Linked DNA regions of Homo sapiens: region 1 is linked to region 2. Evidence: fine-mapped expression QTL. A gene starts in region 2. The other region holds a variant in brackets. All regions are shown on one strand. Distances are from middle to middle. Region 1 overlaps SUN2 (Sad1 and UNC84 domain containing 2). Region 2 holds the start of TOMM22 (translocase of outer mitochondrial membrane 22).

The links. PIP is the estimated chance that this variant, and not a neighbour inherited with it, causes the effect. A credible set is the group of variants that fine-mapping cannot tell apart.
Region 1: its variant is the best candidate, but not a certain one, in a credible set for the expression of TOMM22 in prefrontal cortex (CommonMind, PIP 0.54).

Annotation. Positions count from the first base shown.
Region 1 is chr22:38,734,555-38,738,656 of GRCh38, reverse strand. SUN2 (Sad1 and UNC84 domain containing 2) reads left to right here. Exons shown (of 18, transcript NM_015374.3): 16 at 1-70; 17 at 392-484; 18 at 2,277-3,923. The coding sequence ends at 2,390. It also overlaps a transcript of GTPBP1 not described here. Among named protein-coding and RNA genes, the nearest start is that of SUN2, 19 kb to the left of the region's middle. The variant C/T (reference allele first, on the strand shown) is at 1,914.
Region 2 is chr22:38,680,028-38,684,547 of GRCh38, reverse strand. It overlaps TOMM22 (translocase of outer mitochondrial membrane 22), which reads right to left and starts at 2,591. Exons shown (of 4, transcript NM_020243.5): 1 at 2,453-2,591; 2 at 2,107-2,225; 3 at 1,552-1,669; 4 at 1-781. The coding sequence starts at 2,569. The coding sequence ends at 707. It overlaps TOMM22-DT (TOMM22 divergent transcript), which reads left to right and starts at 2,692. Exons shown (of 2, transcript XR_007068097.1): 1 at 2,692-2,822. RefSeq lists silencers at 2,248-2,297, 2,688-2,757 and enhancers at 2,488-2,557, 1,604-2,803.

The DNA of each region.
Region 1 (4,102 bases), 54 kb before region 2:
AGAGCATGTGCCCAAGGCCTTGTCACCCAACAGCACTATCTCCAGTGCCCCCAAGGACTTCGCCATCTTTGTGAGTATCTGTCCTGTGGTGGGGCCAGAGGGGCTGCAGGGGGATCCTGTGGGCCTCTCTACTGAGGATCAAGTCAGGGTCACCCTTGGACTGGAAGGGAGGGGAGTGGATTTGGAAGAGGAGGAGCTAGGGTGGGAGACAGCACTTCAGTCCCTGTTACCTTAGGCTTTGGAGGCAGAAACTGTGGCACAAGAGAGTGAAGTGACTTGTCATAGGCCACTCTGGTGCCTGACCTGCTGGGTGGGAGGAGCAGGGATTGGAGTGGGGAGGGGTGTTCTCCCTGCTCCAGCCCCTCCCCACTTCCCTCCGCTCTCTTTGCAGGGGTTTGACGAAGACCTGCAGCAGGAGGGGACACTCCTTGGCAAGTTCACTTACGATCAGGACGGCGAGCCTATTCAGACGTTTCACTTTCAGGTACGGGATGCTGCTGTGCTAGCAGAAGTGGCGCAGACTCCCCATCCAGGCAGCAGGTGCTCCCTGGGCACTTACCCTGCCAGGCATGGGGTTCAGAGAGGGAAGCCCTGCTCTCCTTTCCCACAGCTCAAGATGTGATATCCAAATGGGGTGTAACACGCATCCTGCAGACGTCAGCACAGGGGAAGGCACCTTCCAGAAGGGCAGCATGAGGGAAGCTTCCTGGAAAAGGACACCAGGAGGTGGGCTTTACACAAGAGGGGTTGGGTGGCCAGGAAAGGAAGGCCGGGAGAGGCGTTCGAGGAGCCGCCGCCAGCACATGCCAGGGCGCGGGCATTCTACCATGGCCAGCTGGAGCCTCAGGCAGTGCATGCGGCTTAAACTTCAGTGGGCATCCGATCTCCTAAGTCAGTTAGAAATGCAGATTCCCAGTCTCCACCCCAGGAGAGTCTGGTTCCTTAGGGCTGACAGGACCCAGGAGCCTGCATTTGAACAAACCATTGGCCTAAGCCCCACACCGGGGGAGTCCTGGAGTGAGGAATTGGGTTGGCGGGATAGTGGGAGGTGGACGAGGGACAGTGGCAGGAAGAGGAGGCCACAGAGAGGCAGGAAATAAGCCCTCAGGGACCTGGGGGAGGCAGTGCTGTGCTTCAGGTGACAAAGCTATGTCCATTTGACTAACATCACTATATGACTCGAAGGGGCGAGCCTGGGCCTGGGAGACCCGTCAGGAAGTGGTTGAGGGAAAGCAGCCAGAACAGGATAGGTGGGGGAGAGGGGCGTTGGGAGTGAGGACAAAGACGTAGCAGGGAGGGTCGTGAATGTCCAGTTGGATGGGGTGGGAGGAAGAAGCCACTGCGATGGGGGCTGATGTGGAGCAGGGGGCAGGTCTGGCTGAGTCTGAGGCACCTATGGAACAGTCCAGTGGAGCTGTCGGGGGAGCCAGAAAGAACTGAGTTGTCATCAGCTCTGAGGAGGTAACTAGGCTGCAAGAGAGGTTGGGATTTCTCTTTAGGAAAGTATAGAGGCCAGACGAGGTGGCTCATGTCTGTAATTCCAGCACTTTGCAAGGCCAAGGCGAGGGGATTGCTTGAGCCCAGGAGTTCAAGACCAGGCTGGTGAACACAGCGAGATCCCGACTCTACAAAAAATGTTAAAAAATTTAGCCGGGTGTGGTGACATGCACCTGTGGTCCCAGCTACTGGGGAGGCTAAGGTGGGAGGATCCCTTGAGCCCAGAAGGTTGAGGCAGTGAACTGTGATCACACCATTGTACTCCAGCCTGGGTGACAGAGCAAGACCCTGTCTCCAAAAACAAAAAAAGAGGGTAGAGGACAGAACGATGTGCCAGAGAGAAGGGACAAGCCAGGAGTGTGCTAGGCCTGTGGCATCTGCCCAGGTAAGATATGCTGCTAACACCATTCCCAACA[C/T]TGTGGCTAGACAGAGGCCCGATGGGCACTGGAGAAAAAGAATCAAGTGTGCCCCACATCAGCATCTATGAAGCCCTCTATGAAGGTGGTTCTATCTGTTGATCACAATAAAAAAACGATTGTGGATGAATTCATTCCGGTTTCAGATGAAGTGTGCTACAGGTGGCCCCTTAACCCACTGGCTGGAAACACTGCTCAGGAGGCTAAAGATAGGAGCTTTTGAAGCCTGGTTCTCTTCAGAGCCCCAGGGAAGGAGCAGGGGAGCCATCTGGCCCTAGGCGAGGCTGTCTCCCCTTCCCACCTTCTCTGTCAGTGAGGCCTCACAGGTCTCTGATGCTCTTAATCCCTTTCTTCTCTACCCAGGCCCCTACGATGGCCACGTACCAGGTGGTGGAGCTGCGGATCCTGACTAACTGGGGCCACCCCGAGTACACCTGCATCTACCGCTTCAGAGTGCATGGGGAGCCCGCCCACTAGCCCTGCTTACTGGTGCCTGCTGCCAGCCATCTGGGAGTGGGTGAACAGCACCCCGCCGCTTCCCCCACACGCTTGCTCGGCGCTCTGACTTCTAGGAGCACAAGAGAGGAGCCTGTGGCCCCATGCAGATGAAAAGGACGGGCAGGGTCTCCTGAGCAGCAGGTGGCTCGAGGCGGTTAGCAGGCTCCAGCAGCTCCCTTCTTCCTTCCCTCTGTGCCCGTGGCGTCTGCTTCCCATCCTGGGAGTGTGTATATATGTAGCATATCATGGGGGACTGGGAAGTTGGGAGAGGTAGGACCTGACTGGTCTTGGCTGGGGTCAGGGGCTGGTGCCTGGGAGCTGATGAAGCAGGTGCCAGGGCTGTGGGAGGGGCAAGCTACGGCCTGGGCTAGGTGAGCTGCCTCTGCCCCTGGGCAAGGAAGCGAGGCCCTCTGGGAGGAGGGTGCTTAGCTCCAGAGCAGGATGGGACTTCCCCAGGCAGGAAGCACTTGATGGAGAGCTGCCCAGCTCTCCTACAAGGTTAGTGCCCTCCACCTAGGGAAGCATGAACCACAGGGTCCCTGAGGGCCTTCGACAAAAGTGTGTATTTGTCCCGGGGAGGGTAGCAGTGGGCCATGGGGCTTCTTGTGCCCTAAAGGGGACTGGCTGCTGTGATCTTCTAAGGGGCCCAGGGCCAACCCTGTAGGCTTCCCCTCTGCTGGGGACGGTAGTTGCTTTTCTCTCTCCTGATGCTAGGTTGGGGCCCACCCTGCTCCCTGTTCCTGCTAGGGCCTGCCAGTGCCCCTGAGCTTGCTTTCCACATTCTCCCAGGGTATGGAGACCTAGACCTGTCTTTGGGGCCATTAGCATCTGGGGTTATAGCAAGAAGAGTGGGGAGCATGGAACTCCTGGGCTCTTGTGGGGACGTTCAGGGTATCGGGGTGCGAGGTCTGTCTGCACCGGCCCCCACATCTAACCAGGCCCTGATGTAGGGGTCGTCCGCTCAGGCTGCCCCCTTGGGCTCTTGCAGCTCTTGTTCAGGTAGTCGCCCTTCTGGTTTGTTCTCTGTGGGGCAGTTGGTGGGGGCTGGGGGAAGAGGCTGGCAGAAGTTACCCTGGATAGGGAAGGGGGAGGAGGGGACTTTTAGAGCCAGCAGGCCCCACTGTATTATGTATATATTTTTCAAGGTCTGTTTTTCTAACTGAAAAGCTAAGGGCTTGATTCCTAGCCCCGTTCTGTGGGGCACTGGGTGATACTCAGTTTCTTGTTCCTGGCCGTGGAGAGGGGCCTGGGGCACTGGTTCCGGCTGTGTCTGGTGGTCTGGCTGCGGGGAAGGGGCAAGAAGGCGGGCAGGCCTTCACTGCAGCACTGAGCCTCAAATCCGCTCTGGAGCATGAGGCTGGATGCAGTGGTGGTGAGGCCGCCCCGCTCCATCCCGAGGCAGCCAGGGTTTGTTTTGCGCTCTCCTGTCACAAATGCTGCACTATTGGTTCTTAAGTTTTTTATCTCCAGATCCTAATTTATGCCTATGCAAAAAATAAATGACGCCCAAGAGCTGTGGGATGTGGCTTTCATGTGGCTTTTGCCTATCACCTAGGGCAGCTGCTCTTGGGCAGATGAGGGAATGAATTCTTGGCCAAACGAATGTCCCCAAAGACTTATTCCTGAAGTTCAGAAACCCACAACTTTCAGCTAAAGCCCAGTTGTGGTGGGGGATGGGACCTGAGGCAGGT
Region 2 (4,520 bases):
AATGTGAGGGGCAGTACATGTCTCTGACGTGGTCTCATTTCAAGGTACTTAGGATGACACTTTCAGTTGGAATCATTTTTAATATTTAAATACAAAAAGTGAGCACTGACTTCTCTTTTTTTAAACACACACACAGGTCTAACAGCCAAAATGTGCAGAGGAAATGAGCTCCTGCTGTCTTCCATAGTCCCCATTCTGTGGCTGAAGCTGCAGCCTGCCTCCCTCCTCTCATACATAGGGATTCATAGTGGCCACTTTACACTACAGGTGTAATGCATTTTGTCTGTTTCACATTGTGTGCATGTCCTGCCCCAACAACTCCATTCTTTAAAAAAAAAAAAAAAAAACAGTCGTTAATGGTCAGGGGCACATCCCTCCCACTGGCATCGGTTCCTACCCCACAAGGGGAAAGTGAGATCTTCCAGTTAGGAGCAATTTGGTGAAAGGAGTCGGGTGACCAGAGCTGGAATAACCATCTGCATGGCTGCACTCTGGTATCAGAGTGGAGACAGAAGTAAGGATAGTGTGGAGGGCACAGTTGCAAGTTGAGTCTTTCCATGAGACAATGTGGGGATAATTCTCCCCACCAGGTTTAGATAGATCAATGTGCCAAAGTTAAAAAAAAAAAAAAATCCAAATTATCAGCAGTTCAAACACTTGAATTTCAAACTTATCCCACTGAGACAGCTCAAACAGCAATAACAATCTAGATCTTTCCAGGAAGTGAGGGTAGAGCCCCTGGCATTCCTCCTGAGAGCCCTGTGTTAGGTCCTAGAAGTATCTGGAAAAGAAAAGGAGGGGTGTAAGGCATCATACAGGCCTAGAGAGCTTATTCTCACCATACCTGATGGGGCCAACGTCTACAAAAATAATACTGAAAGCACAGTCAGACAACTAAAAGAGCATGGGCCCGATCCCAATCCCCACCCACACATTAACTGTTGGTCAACTCAGGTGCTACAACAGGAGCCCTCAACCCCTGGGCTGTGGACTGGCACTGGCCCATGGCCTGTTAGGAGCTGAGCCACACAGCAGTAGATCAGCAGCAGGCAAGTGAGAGAAGCTTCATCTGTGTTTACTGCTGTTCACCATCGCTCACATTACTGCCTGAGCTCCACCTCCTGTCAGATCAGCAGCAGTGTTAGATTCTCATAGGAACACAAACCCTTGTGAACAGTGCATGCGAGGGATCTAGGTTGCAAGCTCCTTATGAAAATCTAATGCCTGATGATCTGTCACTGTCTCCCATCACCCCCAGACAGGACTGTCTAGTTGCAGGAAAACAAGCTCAGGGCTCCCACTCATTCTACGTTATAGAATTATTTCATTATATATTACAATGTAATAATAGAAATTCAGTGCACAATAAATGTAATGCACTTGAATCATCCAGAACCCCCCCCCCGACCCCCGGCCACCCCCAACCCACCATCCATGTAAAAACTGTGTTCCATGAAACCAGTCCCTGGTGCCAAAAAGGTTGGGGACCAATGTGTTAGTGAAATAACTTGCGTCTCCACCACTGGCAAAAAGCCCAAGGTCTGGGCTCACCTGCCGCTGCTGCAGTTGCTGCTGTTGCTCCATTTGCAACTTCTCCGTCTCAAAGACAACGGGAAGAACCAGGATCATAAAGGAAGTGGTCCCAATCCACAAGGCTGCCCTGGAAAACCTGCAGAGGAAAATCCCCAGAGGGTGAGCATGAAGACATGCAAACAAAACAGGCAAGAACTACCCAGTAACCAAACCTCTCACATTACATACTCCAATGTTTTTGATAAACGTATTCTACCCGCTCCTTACACCATACTCCTACCAGAGACAGGAGGAGCAGCTATGGTAGCTGTATCATCTAGTGATGGCGGTTTAACATTCTCCTGAGTTCTTACAAAGCTCCTTATTCATTAATTATCTCCAACAATCTGAAATAACCCCCACAACTCCCCTGCCAGGTAAGAATCCCCATTTTACAGAAGAGGAAACTAAGAAAGGATAGGGTACAAGCCCAAGGTCACCCAACACGGGTCTGCTGCTTCCAAACCCCGTGTTCTTTCACAGCACCACGACCATCCCATGCACGTACCCAGTGCCTTTGCCCTCGTTCCTTACCTGTACATTTTCTGAGCCACAAAGAGGGAAAGATCAAAAGTGGCTCCGGCCGCGGACCGGACCCTCTCCGGAAACATCTCCGTCAGGCCCCATAGTCTCTCCGACAGGGTCTCATCTAGCTGTGGTGGAGTAGACGCGGGTCTTAGCCGAAAAAGCGACATCCATTCCTGGCCCCGCTGCGGCACTGGGAGCCGCCGAGCCCCACTGGAGCTAGGGCACCCAGGGCCCAGCAGGGCCCCTAACCCCGCCTCCCAAAGCAGCCGCTTCGCTCCGATCCCGTACCACGCGGATCCCACACCCACGAGCGGGCCCGCTTCCCGCTCTGCACCCCGCGAGGCCCTAGTACCTCCTCATCGTCGTCCTCCTCCAGCTCCTCCTCAGGCTTCTCCGCGTCGCCTTTCGGGAGCAATTCGTCCGGGGACTGGGGTTCCCCTGCACCGGCAGCAGCGACGGCGGCAGCCATGACTGTAGGGGACACCGGAAGCGGAAAGGAGGTGAGCGCAGCCGAACGGCGGACAGAGCTGCTTTTCCGGGAGCCGAGGCGCGAGCCGGGCGAGAGCGGCGCCCTCTAGCCCCGGGTCCTCCAGTGCCCGCAGCGGGTCCGGCAGCCCTGGCCTTATCCGGGCGTCGGGGCTTCGGCGGGCATTAGCAGCAGCTGAGAGGCCTGTGAGAGGTTCTGGGGCGCCACCGCAGTCATTCTGTTCAGCGGGTATAGGGTGAGCTCAGAAACTTGCTTGTTTTTCTTTTTTTCAAATGCGTTGTTTTAATTCCAGGTAATAGAGTTCAGGGGAGAACAAAGATCAAAGGGCTGACTCTGGCAAGATTCTGGGGGCTTGTTTTACTTTAAGTTCACAGCTAAGGTAGGAGTGGCTGAGTGAAAACAACTCAAGAGATGATGAGCCACTGTATTTTTTTTTTTAACAAAAGTTTATTCTTAAATTTACAACAGGCTCCAAGACAACACTTTATTCGAGCATAGGTGGCCAAAGATGTGGCCGGGAATAGAGATGTTTAAAGACGAATGGAGTCAGGCCCACCATCACCGCAGGCCCAAGGGACAGTGGAACAGGTCGCTTTTTGTAAGATTTTAGCTTTTTGTTGTTGTTGTTGTTGTTGGTTTTGTTTTGAGACGGAGTCTCGCTCTGTCGCCCAGACTGGATGGAGTGCAGTGGTGTGATCCCGGCTCACTGCAAGCTCCGCCTCCCAGGTTCAAGCGATTCTCCTGCCTCAGCATGCACCACCAACCACGCCCCGCTAATTTTTTGTATTTTTAGTAGAGACGGGGTTTCACCATTTGGCTAGGCTGGTTTTGAACTCCTGACCTCAAGTGATCTGCCCGCCTCGGCCTCCCAAAGTGCTGGCATTACAGGCATCAGCCACCGCACCTGGCCTATATATAGTTATATATTATATATAATATATATTTTATGTGTGTGTATATATATACGTATATATGTATATATATGTATATATGTGTATATATGTATATATGTGTATATAGGTATGTGTATATATGTATATATATACATACGTATACATATATACGTATTATGTATATATACATACACACATATACACACACACACACACACACACATACATATATATATAAAGACAGGGTTTCACTGTGTTGCCTAGGCTGGTCTTGAACTCCGAGACTCAAGCAATCCGACTGCCTCAGCCTCCCCAAGTCCTAGGATTACAGGCCTATGCCACTGCGCCCCACCTTGCCGGATTTCTTAATTCGGCCTGTGACCAGGGCCAAAGATTTATCTTCCTTGTCCATCTCCTTGGCCTGCTTCTTGGGCTGTTTTAGAGAGACACTGATCCAGTTTCGTTTTCCTGAGCCATGTTTTACTTGGTAGGAATAAATTAGTGTCTTGCAGGTCTTTTGGGAAAACATCAGGTAAATCTTCCCTATGTACCAAACAAAGGTAAGAGTTAACACCTAAATACCAGGTGCTCTGGTGCCTGTGGGTGTGGGTGGGTGCGGTGTGTCCTCCTTTAATCTTCACAGCAGCTCACTGGGGTAGGCACTGTTATCCCCATTTTAGAAATGAGGAAACTGAGGCATAGTACATAGATTTCTAGTAAGTAGGTGAGCTGGTCAGAAAGTATGCAGATATAAATTTTTGTTTGAGTTTGTGTGTTTGTTTTTGAGATGGAGTCTTGCTCTGTCGCCCAGGCTGGAGTGCAGTGGCATGATCTCAGCTCACTGCAACCTCCTGGGCTCAAGCGATTCTCCCGCCTCAGCCTCCCAAGTAGCTGGGACTACAGGTGTGTGCCACCATGCCTGGCTAACTTTTTGTATTTTTAGTAGAGATGGGATTTCACCATGTCGGCCAGGCTGGTCTAAAACTCGTGACCTCAGGTGATCCACCCGCCTTGGCTTCCCAAAGTGCTGGGATTACAGG